2 linked regions of the Homo sapiens genome follow. The protein of the gene in region 1 purifies or fractionates together with the protein of each later gene. This does not show direct contact. Each region holds a gene or a part of one and is shown in the gene's direction. Other genes may lie near its edges.

Evidence for each region. Proteins that work in one complex are often made in the same cells at the same time.
Region 2: the proteins of GNPDA1 (region 1) and SEC31A purify together in Homo sapiens (affinity purification with mass spectrometry; 2 studies listed by BioGRID and IntAct, with this or other methods). This does not show direct contact.

What each region holds. Positions count from the first base shown.
Region 1 is NC_000005.10:142,002,434-142,010,312, reverse strand, and holds part of GNPDA1 (glucosamine-6-phosphate deaminase 1), read left to right. Parts: intron 1-2,412; coding exon 2,413-2,514; intron 2,515-3,986; coding exon 3,987-4,169; intron 4,170-5,196; coding exon 5,197-5,381; intron 5,382-7,050; coding exon 7,051-7,225; intron 7,226-7,879. UniProt on the Homo sapiens protein: Catalyzes the reversible conversion of alpha-D-glucosamine 6-phosphate (GlcN-6P) into beta-D-fructose 6-phosphate (Fru-6P) and ammonium ion, a regulatory reaction step in de novo uridine diphosphate-N-acetyl-alpha-D-glucosamine (UDP-GlcNAc) biosynthesis via hexosamine pathway.
Region 2 is NC_000004.12:82,817,547-82,825,425, reverse strand, and holds the end of SEC31A (protein transport protein Sec31A), read left to right. Parts: intron 1-751; coding exon 752-871; intron 872-4,317; coding exon 4,318-4,389; intron 4,390-6,172; coding exon 6,173-6,352; 3' UTR 6,353-6,917; downstream 6,918-7,879. UniProt on the Homo sapiens protein: Component of the coat protein complex II (COPII) which promotes the formation of transport vesicles from the endoplasmic reticulum (ER).

The sequences.
Region 1 (7,879 bases):
GTGGCGGGCACCTATAATCCCAGCTACTCAGGAGGCTGAGGCAGGAGAATCAATTGAACCCAGCAGATAGAGGTTACAGTGAGCTGAGATTGTGCCACTGCACTCCAGCTTGGGTGACAGCGATACTCTGTCTAAAAAAATAAAAAATAAAGGCCGCAGGCCAAATTTGGCCTGTGGACCAAAGTTTGCTGAGTTCTGCACTAGAGGTTTGTGGGAGTAGTATCCACCTGTGCCTGTGAAACTACCAATGTCTCAGGCCCTCGGAGGCTGTGCTAACATCCTGTCTCCTAACTGTGGAGAGACCCAACCTCTGTATGGGTCAGAGTCTGGCCTTCTGAAACCATTCCCTCGTTCCCATCATTGCAGAGTCAGATCCAAGCTCTTCAGAGTGGCATTCAAGGCCCTCCAAAACCTGGCCTCTCCCTGCCTGTCCTGCTTGAACCAACAGGACAGCGTTTCCACACGGGTTCCTTGGAACATTGCTTCTGTTAGATGTAGCACCTGTCAGGGTTCTGAGTGGAAACCACAGAAACCAACTCCAGCTAAATTAAGCAGAAAAGGAGTTTATTGGCTAGATACTGGGAAGTTCAGAGAATTCATGGGAAGGCTAGAAGTTTGGAAAATGGCAGGAGAGAGGAAGCTATGTGGCTCAGGCATAGCTAAGGCCTTGTCACACGGACCAACTAATTATTTTGGGTGGGCTGCGGGGAGCTGCCATTCACTCAGCAGGTATTTATTGAGTACCCTCTGTATGCAAAGCTGTTCTAGCCTCTAAGGATACAGCAATGAACAAAAAGGATATGAACTTCTGCCTTCTGAGGCTTAAATTATAATGGGAGAGACATAATAATTAGCAAAATATAGAGTATGTTAGATGGTGATAAGAGGAAAGGAGAAACATGAAGCAGGAAAGGATAGGGAGTGTGTCGGCAGGGGTGGGGCTGTGCAGTGTTGGATATGGTGGCAGGGAGGGTCTCATAGCCAGGGGCCAGGTTCTGTGGAGCCTTAGAATAACTGGTGTTGCTGAGGGTGAAATGAGAAGCTATTGGTGGGTTTTGAAAAGAGGGGTGACATGACGTAATCTCGATGGGTTTTTTTTCTTTCATTTTTTTAGTTTGCAAAATTTCAAATATTCAAAAAAGAGGAAAAAAACAGGTCAATACCATTCACCTAAATTCACCAATTGTTACCATTTTGCCACATTTGCTTTTACCTTTCTCTGGCTCTTGTTCTTTATCTACACACACACACACTTTTTTTTTCTGAACCACATGAAAATAAGTTCCAGACATCCTGACACTTATCTCTAAATCCTTCAGCACATATCTCCTGAGAATAAGGACATTCTCCTACACAACCATGATACCATCATACCTAAGAAAATGAAAAATCATGCCATCATCTAATATGCAAACTGTGTTCACAATTTTTTCTCAATTGTCCACATTTATCTTTTATAGGTTGGTTTTTAAAAAATTAATTCAGTGTCCAGTCAGGGTTCATGCATCTTTAGTCTTTTAATATACAGTGTCCTCCTACCTTTTATTGTGTGTGTGTTTTTATGACATTGACTTTTTTTTTTTTTCAAGATAGAGTCTGGCTCTATTGGCCAGGCTGGAGTGCAGTGGTGCAATCTCGGCCCACTGCAACCTCTGCCTCCCAGGTTCAAGTGATTCTTGTGCCTCAGCCTCCCGAGTAGCTGGGATTACAGGCACATGCCACCATGCCCAGCTACTTTGTGTATTTTTAGTAGAGACAGGGTTTCACCATGTTTTCCAGGCTGGTCTTGAACTCCTGACCTCAAGTGATCTGCCCGCCTTGGCCTCCCAAAGTGTTGGGGTTACAGGCGTGAGCCACCATGCCTAGCCATGACATTGACTTTTTAATGAGACTCAACTAGGGCTTCGCTGCTCCTCAGGGAAGTCTTCCTTGAACCCTGAAGCACTGGGTGAGCCTGTGCTTTACCCTATCACAACTGACGTTCCTGCTTTGTGTTCTACTCCTAGTGAGTTATCTTAGAGTAGCTACTGTCCCTTGCTCCCCTGTGTCCTTATCACATGGCCCTGTGCCTTGCACATATTACTTGTTCAGGGAGTATCATGTCAATAATGAAGTCTGATGTTCACTCAGGTACTAATCAGAGTGATTTCAGTCATCAGTGTGCTGGATACTGGGAGATTCAGCAGTGATCAAGGCAGACACAGTCCTGCCCTCCTGGAGCTTACAGTCTAGTGGCAAAATAGGCATTAAACAAGCAATTAATGGATGGATGGCAGTTAGGATTGGAGTACTGGGTAGGACTTCAGATCTGACAGGTTCTCCCTGTGAGCAGCCCTGACTTATTCCTGTGAACCCTCTGGGCTTCCAGACTTGGGGTGCAAGGGGTGTTCATGGGTGTGGCCACTCTTGCAGGGAGTACCCCACTTGGCTGCTACAAGAAGCTGATTGAATACTATAAGAATGGGGACCTGTCCTTTAAATATGTGAAGACCTTCAACATGGATGAGTACGTGGGTGAGTCTTTCTCTTTCAAGGTTCTTTCCTGATTCTAGGAGAGTGATGCTCCTCCTCTCATTGGCCCAGTCCTGGAGAGGAATCGGGGAGCCAGTGACATTTGATGATAGGCTCAATTATCAATACTTACCTCTTGGTTTACTCAGCTATAAAATGGGGCTAATAAAGCTGACCTCACAGGTTGTAAGCATTAAATTCATTTAATCCTTTTATGATAAAAGATGTGGAAGTTTCTTATACATAACAAATACTTAATAAATATTAGAGTATCTCCTTCTCCTCTGCCTGCTCCTCAACTCCATTCCATTTCTTTCTGGAACAAATGATTGCAAGTGGGATCCTGGCTCGGGTGTTTCCCCTAGGATCTGTGTCTGTGCTTTCTCTTCTGTGTGTGGCCTCCAGCTCCCCTTTCTGCCAGGTACACTTGAAGGGGACCTGAGATTGGTATCCTTCCTGCTGCTGAAAGACTATACCTTGGTCTTCTATCACCTCTCCCTCACCCAGTCCTTTTGTAATAGCTTCATTTTAAACATCCTTTTTTTAAAAAAAAAATTGTGGTAAAATACATGTAACATGACATTTACCATCTTAACCACCTTTCTGTGTATAGTTCAGTAGTGTTAAGTGCATTCACATTGTTGTGCAACCAATTTCCAGAACTCTTTTCATCTTGTAAGACTCAGGCTCTATACCCGTGAAACAACAACTTCTCATTTCCCACTTCACCAGCCACGGAAACCACCATTTTACTGTCTGTTTCTATGAATTTGACTACTCTAGAATCAAACTAGAGTATATAACTGGAATCATAAAGTATTTGTCTTTTTGACTGGCTTCTTACACCTAGCATAAAGTCCACAAGGTTCATCCATTGTTGTAGTGTGTGTCAAAATTTCCTTCCTTTTTAAGGCTGATTTTACATATTCTTAATGCTTAACATTAAACATTATTTTTTTTTCCTGGCCAAAAAAAAAAAAGTTGATCTGGGGAAGCCCTAAGATAGTTCTCTCTAACCACCTGGTGTTCAAGCTGGGATTTATTCAGGCTGAGTGGGGTAGAACTGGGAGTGGATGGTGGGTTGAGAGGCACAGGGTGAGGGGTGTGCTTGCTTGCTTTCTAAGATGAGTTCAGCCCTACCCCAGGTGGCCAGAGTGTCCCCAGCCTCTAACCTATGGTCATTGCCTTATGAAAAGCAGATCAGATCAGAATGTGGGGATTTCCCAGGCCCTTGGTGTGCAGTTACTCTGGCCAAGCCCTGTGGCCACAGATGGTGGTACTGGGTGGGTGGACACTTATGGATACTGGCTCAGCCTGTGCCGAGTGGCTAGGGGTCAGAGGGCTGGTGCCTAAGGCTCCCAGATGGGCAGACCCCTGGGAGTGTCTCTGTAGGTCAGCATGGTGTCCTGGCATCCTTCTTAGGAGAGGGGCTTTGGCTTGGCCTAGGCATAACCGAGTGTCTCACGGCCCCACAGGCCTTCCTCGAGACCACCCGGAGAGTTACCACTCCTTCATGTGGAACAACTTCTTCAAGCACATTGACATCCACCCAGAAAACACCCACATTCTGGATGGGAATGCAGTCGACCTACAGGCAGAATGTGATGCCTTTGAAGAGAAGATCAAGGCTGCAGGTGGGATCGAGCTATTTGTTGGAGGTGAGCTTGACACTCTGCAGCACACATGTCCAGGGCCAGACCCGTGGGAAGGAGGACAAGACACAATGCCTGTCTGCAGACAGCTTCTTCTGGGTGTGCTAGTGACCGTAGAGACAGAGGCGGGAGAAATGGGCCCTGCCTGGCTCTGTTACTCAGGAACTATGTTATCTTGGAGATCTCTTTCTGCAGTTTGATGCCTTGTCTGTAAACTGAGAGGTTTGGGTTTGGACTCTGAGATTCTGTCTACTCCCCAGTCTTAAGGTTTTATGGATCAGTCCTGGAACTTATCTAAACATTTAACATCATGGACTCATGTAGTTCCGGAAGGCTCCACACAGCCCCTGTAGATAGCCAGTTGAACCCCAGAGAAGTTAGGTGACTCACTCAAGGTTCACAGGTGGGAGCAAGTGTGTGCTTCTTGGATTTGTGCTCGGGTCCTCTGGGCTGCCCTTCTGTGTATCCATCTATCGCCACCTCTGGAGTTACCCATGAGGGGTAACATTGAACTGCCTTTTATTGCTCTAGAGATCACTCTTCTATACTTCAAGGTGGGGAGGAGGGGGGCAGGACCTCTCATCCTCTGAGATTTTAGAACCTTGGCAGCCCCTGTCCAGGTTCTCTGGGTGTTTTGTTCACTGCACCTCTATCCCAGCAGCAGGACCCTCTAACTACAGGCAGAAGAGACAGAGAAGGTCCACTTTTCTGACAATCTGGGGAGGCAGAAGCTGTTTGGAGTGTTTCCTCCTCAGCTTTTTGAGGGTGATAGCAAGTTAACAATGTCTGTGTGTGCCTCAGATAGACATGATGGGGAGGGTCTCCTCTGAGACAGTATGGCAAAGAGAAAGAAATGGTAGGGAGGGGGACAGATCACATGTTTAAGGTGTACCTGCCCAGGGCTGCAAATGAGAAAGGTGACACAGCTTTCAATGATTTTTCTTCAGACCCTAGTTAGGGAAGGAGAGATTGTCCATTCTTGAAATCTTGGATCCCTGGGACTGACAGGGCTGCACGGGCTCTCTCCCTATAGGCATCGGCCCTGATGGACACATTGCCTTCAACGAGCCAGGCTCCAGTCTGGTGTCCAGGACCCGTGTGAAGACGCTGGCCATGGATACCATCCTGGCCAATGCTAGGTTCTTCGATGGAGAACTCACCAAGGTGCCCACCATGGCCTTGACGGTGGGGGTGGGCACTGTCATGGATGCTAGAGAGGTAAGGGCATAAGGGCCCCACCAGCTTGCGCTGGTGGACTTGTCTTTCTCTTGTTAATCTTAACTATACTGGTACCACCTACATTCTTATTAAAGATGAAGGCATGGTAAATAAGGCTAAAATCCCTGCTGACCCTGTTACTCACTGTTCCTCTTGCGTCTTTGGAAGACATCATTATTCCCAGTGTGAGGTGAATCCCTTGAGCACGTTTTTGGTGCCTTTGGCTGACTGCCTGAGACAGCAGGCTCTCTGGCCTCAGGCCCCTTTCATGCTTTTCACAGGCAGAGAGGAGGCCAGCATCGCTAATGTTGGAATATTTGTACCTGACCAGGTATGGAGAGAGGGGTTCCCTTGTTCCTTGTAGTTGGTAGAGGTCACTGTTGGGACACCAAGGATGCTTGTGCTTCTAGCCCCGTGCTCAGAGATTAATAAATGTGGTGAAGTATGATTAAAATATAAGTGTTTTAAACTGAATTTAGCTTTTCCCCTAAAAAATTGGCTATCATTTGAATGTGAATTTTTTGTGGTTCCAATTTCCTTATTTTCATTAGAACTTTAGAAGCATTTTCTCTTCCTTTCTGACGTGTATAGACATGTTAGATTTACATTTCTTTGCCCAAGCCAATAAACAAGCATCTAAATCAGTGAAAACTTCCCTGTTTAAAGTGAACTTTTGTGAAATGAGTGATGGCACCCAGATTTCTGTTGGGTAATCTTCAATCAGTACGTGGGGTGGGGGTGTTTACTCGCTGTTTTTAGCTCTGCAGCTTGGAAACAGGTTTAGGGCCGTCTTTATCATGAGGGCATCTTGATCTGGGAAAGGACCTGGGGCTGGAAATCAGGAAATTATCTTTTCTAAAGAGTTCTGGGTTGCTGAGGGGTCCGGAAGAAATAGTCACATTCCCTCTCTGCTTCTGCATTCTAATCTTTTAAGAAAGGAACAGTAAATCCTGTTCACAACTCTGTGGCACATGTGAATTAAAATGAAAGGAAATCTACAGAACTGAGTTTTTTTCTCTTTTCCTGCCCTTGAATAGAGCTGAGTTCTTTAAGATCACTTACATTCTCGATATTTTAACTGTTAAGTGGAGACTGTGCCTTTGTTTTATTATATATTAACAAAAACCATCACCCCAAGTCACATTAGTTCATAGGTTTAATGCTGTGAACTGAAAGTGACCAGATAATGGGGCAACCTTTCTGGGATTCAGCCTTAGAGGCCCCACAGATAACTCCCACCATTGCTTGCAAAGTGCCCTTGCTGGTGGTGCAGGTTGGGAGCCCTCTTTCACAAACTGTGCTTGTGTAGAGTCACCCAGCTGATGGGATAGCAGGCCTGGGCATGGCATGTCTGTTTACAGGGCACCTTCATAGTCATCATCAAAGATACCTGGAGGCACTGTCACGTGGTAGTCAAGAACATGAACTTTGGGGTCATAAATGACCCTGGGCAAGTTATTTAACCCCCTGGGGCTCTGTTTTCTTATAAGATGGAGATAATGATGCTGCCTGCCTCGGGTTATTTGTGTGATAAAGCACAGGGAGCACTGAGCAAAAGTATGTTGCATGGTAACCACTTACAATGTGATATGAAAAACAATCATCCTTACAACTGTTTAGGGTGTCTGGAATGCTCCCCTCCATCACAGACTTGTTTTCTGATCCCCAGGTGATGATCCTTATCACAGGTGCTCACAAGGCATTTGCTCTGTACAAGGCCATCGAGGAGGGAGTGAACCACATGTGGACCGTGTCTGCCTTCCAGCAGCATCCCCGCACCGTGTTTGTGTGTGACGAGGATGCCACCTTGGAGCTGAAAGTGAAGACTGTCAAGTATTTCAAAGGTGAGGGAGGTGTGGGTCCAGGAGGAGGTGGTCAAGCTTAGGGTGTGCTAGGAGTAAGGAGTAGATCCAGCTTTCATCCTCTGGTCATTTTAATTGACAACTGTAATCTTAAGAAATATCAAACCCAACTGCATCACACTACACAGTCATTTCTCTTCTGCCTGTGACTGCAAAGATCCATTTCTGGAGATCTGTTTGCTCTGAGGAGGAGGAAAGAAAACGCAATGTGGTCCAAGGACTATGTGGTGACCTCACAGTGCCATTAAGCCTCAGGTTTTCTCTTTTCAAATCTTAAACAAGCGATTCCTTTCTTTTATTTACTTTCTTTCTTTTTGAGACAGGGTCTCACTCTGTCGCTCAGGCTGGAGTGCAGTGGTGTGATCTCAGCTCACTGCAACCTCCACCTCCCGGGCTTAAGTGATTCTCCTTGCCTCAGTCTCCCAAGTAGCTGGGATTACAGGTGCCCGCCACTATACCCAGTTAATTTTTGTATTTTTAGTAGAGGCGGGGTTTTGCCATGTTGCCTAGGCTGGTCTCAAACTCCTGACCTCAGGTGATCCACCCACCTCGGCCTCCCAAAGTGCTAGGATCATAGGTGTGAGCCACGATGCCCAGCCCTTCTTTTACTTTAAAAGGATGCACACTGCTTTAGGC
Region 2 (7,879 bases), on another chromosome or scaffold:
TTTTGTTTCCACTACGTGTTAACGTACTGCAGTTGCTATTTTATGTACATTGGTGATGTTTTTAAACTGTGCCTCTTCCATTAACCTGTAAACTCCCTGAGAACTGAGATCATTTCTGTATTGGCTCACCAGTAGTACGTAGCCAGTTCCTGGTAAATAGTTGCCTAATATTTTTTGAATGAGTGAAAGAATGAACTAATAAAACTTAACTTAAACATTTCTTCTTTGTTCTTTCATCTGTATACTCAGCAGCATCGGGATGTCTTCTCTCTTAATCTTTGGCTTAATCTTGCAGTTTTGATCACAGCCCAGTTAACAACCTCTAAGAGTAAAACAAAGAATAGAAGAATGCCAGCATACACGTAAATGAGCCAATAGGCAGAGCAAGCAGCCATTCTAACCAGCCGAGTGTGTTTTCCAGTGCCTTGTTTTTATTCTCTGCTGGCACATACTTATTTCCCATCAGTTATAAACAATATTGACCAACATATGTTACCTAAATTAATCAACTACTTTGTATCCAGTCCTGCATATGAAAATCCAAACTGTAGGAAGAGCGCCTACACTTTGTACTAGATATCTGGTTTTTATTTTTACTTATCGTAAGTGATTTCACACATTAAATTTTAATTTGATTTTGAATAGGTCTATGTACAAGGTTGTCGGTTTCTGTTTATCACATAGATTCAAGATTGTGTATATAAGGTAGCTTCTGGTCATTTCTGATCAGTTTTTGGTGTGTTTCTTCCAGCATGTGCAGTCTTTGCCAACAAAAAAAATTACCAAGAAACCTATTCCAGATGAGCACCTCATTCTAAAGACCACATTTGAGGATCTTATTCAGCGCTGCCTTTCTTCAGCAACAGACCCTGTATGTATTTATTTTTTTAAATCATATTTTGCTTAATTAGAAGAATCCTTGGCCAGGTGTGGTGGCTTATGCGTGTAATCCCAGCACTTTGGGAGGCCGAGGTAGGTGGATCATTTGAAGCCAGGAGTTCAAGACCATCCTGGCCAACATAGCAAAACCCCGTCTCTACTACAAATACAAAAAATTAGCTGTGTGTGGTGGAATACACCTGTAGTCCCAGCTACTCGAGAGGCTAAGGCAGGAGAATTGCTTGAACCCAGAAGGCAGAGGTTGCAATGAGCCGAGATCGCGCCATTGCACTCCAGCCTGGGTGACAGAGACTCCGTCTCAAAATAAATAAAATATAATAAAATAAAAGAATTCTTTATGGAGTTCTTCTATAATTATTGTTTGAAGTCCTACAAGGTATATTTCTAAAAATTTGTACAAAAGTAATAAAGCTAGCACTTACATAGTTTGCATTACATATAGAAATATATTTAATTGCTTTTTATATATAAATGTACTTAATCTTCACAATAACCTATGGCAGATAGATTTGTCATTTTTATTTTACAGACAAGAAAAGTAAGGCAGAGAGCAGTTAAGTAACACTTAAGGTCAGAGCCAGCATTCAAACCCAGACTGTCTGGCTCCAGAATTCATGCTCTCAACCACCAAGCTATACTGCCTCTCATCAACAAAACTGTATTTGGCACATAAATGGAGCATAATGGTGCTATGCAAGAAACTCAGATTTGGGATTTCTTTCTGAGCTTATATTGAAATTGTTAAAAGTAGATAGATCATCTTCTAAAGCTTTGCAGAGATGTTAAAGATAGTTAAATGTTTTAGATATCGGAGGCATATTTACATTTAAAGCAACTGATTTTACTTAGTTTACTTAAGATACCCCTGTATTGCAACAACAAACATTCCACAAAGCCAGTCTTAAGTGAAATTTCATTTTCTGCTAGCACACATTGAATATTTTTAATCATCGGCTACTTGTCTGCATGAAAAAACATCTTCTAGATCTTATTGTTCATCAGACATTGAGTATTAATATGTGCAGCCTTCTGCTGGTCAGTGGCTTTGTGGAAAGCCATTCTCTGTACTGAAAGTATCAGGAAAGCAGTTAACATAAACCTTAGTGCCTGACATTCTGGGAGTGATGGGAAGACCAAGGTGGAAACAAGAGAGCAGACGAAGCTGATAACCAGATACATGCTAGCCCTTATGCACACTTCTAAATAGACAGGCTGTAGTCATTCAAAAATGGAAGCATCTGAATAAGAATGACAACACACCAATTCTTCAGGCGTGAGTCAGTATAGAGAGGTTGGGAAGACACGTAATACATGGCCCAACTCAATACATTTTTTGTTAATTTACCCTTCTCTCGGTCATCATACTATATTCCTCTTGGATACCGAGGAGCTCTGGGTAGTAGAGAACCATAAAAGACAAAGTGTTCCTATAATTTCTGTAATTAGTTGGGGAAGAAGTTCTAATATCCTGCCTGTCCGGCTGCCCTTGCCCCCTTGGGGTAGGGCTCCTGTTTGTAGCTAGATAAGGTTAACTTTGTTTTTCTTTTTTTTTGAGACGGAGTTTCACTCTTGTTGCCCAGGCTGGAGTGCAATGGTGCAATCTCGGCTCACTGCAACCTCCGCCTCCCAGGTTCAAGAGATTCTCCTGCCTCAGCCTCCCTAGTAGCTGGAATTACAGGCATGTGCCACCACGCCCGGCTAATTTTGTATTTTTAGAAGAGACAGGGTTTCTCCATGTTGGTCAGGCTGGTCTCGAACTCCCAACATCAGGTGATCCGCCCACCTCGGCCTCTCAAAGTGCTGGGATTACAGGCATGAGCCACCGCACCTGGCCAGGTTAACTTTGAGCAAGGATTGTAAGGTTTCCTTTCCGCAAAAGTTCATTTTAATCAGTAGTTGGAATAGTTTTTATAGCATGGATGTATCTTATTTTCACTTTATGTCTAAACAGCACAAAGTAATTTTGCCACACAACTTGGTATGTAGCATCCTTGATGGCCTGTCTCTTCTCTCTCTTCTCCAAGCACACTGGCATTCCTTCCTTGAACACACCAAGAGCATTTCAGCGTCAGGACTTTATACTTGCTGCTCCTTCTGCCTGGAACTCTTCCTCCACATATCTGCATTGTTTGTTTCCTCCCAAGTTCAAGGCCTCTGCTCACATGTCCCATTAGCCATCAGGCCTTTCTTTATTACCCCCAACTCCCAACATGTTTAGCCCCCTTCCTCTATTAACTTTTCTTCATAGCAGTTATCACCATCTGACATGCAATATATTGTTCATTTAGTATCTTTTCTCACCCAGTGGGATATGAGCTACATGACATACAAGACTTTGTCCCTGGTACAGCACATAGTAAGCAGCCAATAAATATTGAACTAACATAAGGCTGTGGTATAATGTAGAACATTAAGTTAATCATGTAATTTTAAAACTGTTAGTTTTAGTTTTAGAATAGTTTCTTTGATTATACTTTACAGTGCTATGGTAGAGAGAAAAAAAAGCTTTTTAATTTAATAATTTATTTTACTACTTCCCTCAGTAATCTTAAGCTGCCAAAAGATAGTTTTCTTTCTTTCTTGGTGCTTTAAAGGCTTAGAAAAAGGCAGGATTAAACAAATGTAACTAAGTGTTTAAGTAGTATTTTTGAAAGGTTAAAACAAGATTCCACAGTTCACCTATATGTTTGCCTTCTACCACCCATAATCGACAATAACTACTTAGACCTTCTTTTTTGTGATACACTGACCCATTGCTGCCTCCTGATGCTTGTGAATATAGTGCAAGCAAACATGCATATATACCTTATCAAGTGAGTTTGCAGTTCATATGAAATCCAATCAGTACTCTTTCATGCACTGGAAGTAAGTCTCATCCTCTCCTCATCCCAGTCCCCTCCACCCTCCACCCTTGATAGATGATTGATCTCTGTTCTAATAATCTGTTCAAGTTTCTTTTTTTTTTTTTTTTTTTTTTGAGACGGAGTCTTGCACTGTCGCCTGGGCCTGGAGTGCAGTGGCGTGATCTCGGCTCACTGCAACCTCCACCTCCTGGGTTCAAGCAATTCTCCTGCCTCAGCCTTCCGACTAGCTGGGATTACAGGCGCCTGCCACTACGCCCAGCAAATTTTTTGTATTTTTAGTAGAGACAGGGTTTCACCATGTTGACCAGGCTGGTCTCAAACTCCTGACCTCATGATTTGCCTGCCTTGGTCTCCCAAAGTGCTGGGATTACAGGCGTGAGCCACCACGCCCGGCCATAATCTGTTCAAGTTTCTTAGTTGTAGTTGCCTCCATTTCTTTATAAAATGAAGCCATTCAACATTTTAAGTATAAGGTTTAGTGCAATGAGATAGGGCAAGTTCTTAGGTTAAAAGTTAATGTTCAAATATAACATCTATTTTTTCTTTCCTGCAGCAAACCAAGAGGAAGCTAGATGATGCCAGCAAACGTTTGGAGTTTCTGTATGATAAACTTAGGGAACAGACAGTAAGTTTTGGAGGAAAAGGATTTATGATAATCATTTATTCCTAGTTGCTAGTAAAACAGTTGTCTTATCAGCACTCCCATTTAGTATGCATGGGGGCAAAATTGTCATGACATTTAGAGAATGGGCATGGCTGTGTTGAATCATAAATTCCACTCACTGGGGTTAAGGGGATACGGGTGTGTGTGTGTGTGTTTGTGTGGGTGTGTTGAGAGAGACATTTTAACCCTCTCATAACAAGAGTATAAATACAAACTGGCCTGTGTTGGCCATAAGGTAGCTGACCTTCTGCTGTTCCTTTTATATGGCCCAGTTACAAGAAATCAAAGAGTATGCAGATACTCTGTTTTCCAGGGACTAAATCTATAATCTTTATCATAGTCTAAGACTCTTGACCCTTTTCTTTTAGGATAGCCATTATACAAAAGCAAAGCCAAATGTAGCCACAAGATGAATAGGGTAATGTGCTGTAACTATGAAGATAGCCAGGAGTAAGAAGTCAGTTCACTACGTTTGTTCTCTTGTCCCCACCTCACCATTCTTTTCTAAAATTGTCTTGTTTTATTAATGAAAGCACTAGGAAAGGAGAAGAAAAAAAGAAGTGGGACTTTCTTTTTATTTTTTCCATTTCAGCATTCCTCTAACCCATTCCCCACACTCAGTTCCATCAGATGAAAATAACCATTTCTCTCATGAGAACCAAACTAAAGAAAGTTGATATAACAGTGGAAGTAGTGTGGTCCTTGGACTGATCCAAAATAAAGTCTTCTCGGTGGGCACAGTGGGATATGCCTGTAATCCCAGCTACTGAGGAGGCTGATGCGGGAGGATCACTGGAGCCCAGGAGTTTGAGACCAGCCTGGGCAACATAGCAAGACCGCATTTCCAAAAAAAAAAAAAAAAAACAGAAGATACAATTAGCGTATACATCTAGATGAGTATATATTAAAACATTTTTTAAAAATGAGATCAAAATAGGCCAGGCATGGTGGCTCACGCCTGTAATCCCAGCACTTTGGGAGGCTGAGGCGGGCAGATCACCTGAGGTCAGGAGTTTGAGACCAGCCTGGCCAACATGGCAAAACCCCGTCTCTACTAAAAATACAAAAATTAGCTGGGCATGGTGGCACACGGCTGTAGTCCTAGCTACTCAGGAGGCTGAGGCAGGAGAATCGCTTGAACCCGGGAGGCGGAGGTTGCAGTGAGTCGAGATCGCACCACTGTACTCCAGCCTGGGTGACAGAGTGAGACTCCATCTCAAAAAAAAAAAATCCAAATAAAGTCTTCTGTAAAGTATGGACACCTATGCCAAGTAATGACATAGTAAAAAACTACAGGTTTTATAGTTTTAAGAGATGACAGGATTATAAAAAGCAGGTAAGAATTAGTAAATTTGGGCCCTTCCTTTGAGATATTATGATTAAGAATCTTTAATCTCCTTTTTGTGCATAGGAGAATTTTTTAAAGGTCTGAAGCTCTCTTAAGTGGAGAGAGAAATTAGCATTTCAGTTTGGAGAGGAAATCGGGCTGCTTTTCTGTAAGAAAATACCTGGCTTATACATGTATAATTCATAAATAACTTATTTATGTAAATCATTTTGTTGTGGTTGTACTTGATAACTGTTGCTTGGTTCAAGAAACTTTCTAGAAATGCTAAATGGTTTATATATTTTTATAATGTTTGTTTCAAATTCCACTTAAATATCTGGGTTTAATGTTTATGGAGGATCTCATGGGAAGTTATCCCTTAATTTAATTCTTTCTCTTGGTTCACTTTTGTTTCAGCTTTCACCAACAATCACCAGTGGTTTACACAACATTGCAAGGAGCATTGAAACTCGAAACTACTCAGAAGGATTGACCATGCATACCCACATAGTTAGCACCAGCAACTTCAGTGAGACCTCTGCTTTCATGCCAGTTCTCAAAGTTGTTCTCACCCAGGCCAATAAGCTGGGTGTCTAAAAGGACAGCTTCTCTTCCACTCAATATTGCCATTTTTCCAAAGAAACATGTTAAAAAAAAAAATTATAAGACATGGACTAGTCCTCATTAGCATGTTTGCATAGCAACCAGTCAAGAGCATTTACACTATTTCTGCTGATATACTCACCTTAGAACTGCTCAGAACCCTGGTGCTTTATTTTTGTTTTAATCTTTTGTTGCCAGTGATGATTTTCCTATTCTGCAAATAGTGTATTTCCTGGATTACACATAGTATGGTTTCCTGAAGTATTCTGATAAATGTGTTTTTTAAAACCTCAATATACTTTTTAGAAAAGGAGCATCTGGTTATGCATAAAGCAGAGCTAAAACTAAATTTCTTTCATGTCCTCCCTACTTCCTCAGTGTCAATCAGATTAAAGTGTGTAATCCTATTTTATGTGTGTATAGTCTTTTTTGAAACAGCTGCTTAAAATTTAGTTTATTTTTTGTGTCTTAGGATTCCTGAGTAAATAACTACATCTACAAACTGCTACATGGGTTTTAGCAGATATTAATAAAAATGGGATCACTGGCTTTAACTATATAGGAAAAGACTGGACATTTTTGTTCTGTAGAATGCATTGAGCTTTTTTCTATTTGTAAATGTTTCAATATTCTGTTTGAGTTTTAAGACTAAATTGTGTCCATTTTATAGCTAGAAATTTTTTCACCTATTTTGTTTAAATTACCTATAGCTGTGCCAGGCATGGTGGCTCACGCTTGTAATCCCAGCACTTTGAGAGGCCGAAGCAGGCAGAGGTCGGGAGTTCGAGACCAGACTGGCCAACATGGAGAAACCCTGTCTCTACTAAAAGTACAGAATTAGCCGGGCGTGGTGGCGCATGCCTATAATCCCAGCTACTTGGGTGGCTGAGGCAGGAGAATTGCTTGAACCCGGGAGGCGGAGGTTGCGGTGAGCCGAGATCACGCCATTGCTGTCCAGTCTGGGCAATAAGAGCAAAACTCTTTCTCAAAAAAAAAAAAAAAAATTACCTGTAGCTTTGAGGTTTAAGTTCAGAAAGAAAGCTTTAATTTCAGTCAGCCTGTAAATCAAAGCCACACATTTTGCACCCAGTTTTTCTGTCAAGTGACTTTATTATCATCTGTCTTAAGAACAGTGTGGTAAGGCCGGGCGCGGTGGCTCACGCCTGTAATCCCAGCACTTTCAGAGGCCAAGGCAGGCGGATGACCTGAGGTCAGGAGTTCAAGACCAGCCTGACCAACATGGAGGAACCCCATCTCTACTAAAAATACAAAATTAGCCAGCCAGACGTGGTGGCACATGCCTGTAATCCCAGCTACTCGGGCGGCTGAGGCAGGAGAATCGCTTGAACCTGGGAGGCGGAGGTTGCAGTGAACCGAGATCGCACCATTGCACTCCAGCCTGGGCAACAGCCTCCATCTCAAAATAAATAAATAAATAAAAGAACAGTGTGGTAAACAAAAAATTAATGGTCCCTGTAGAATCTGGAGAAGAGTTAGATAATAATTTTCATAGTTTATGCA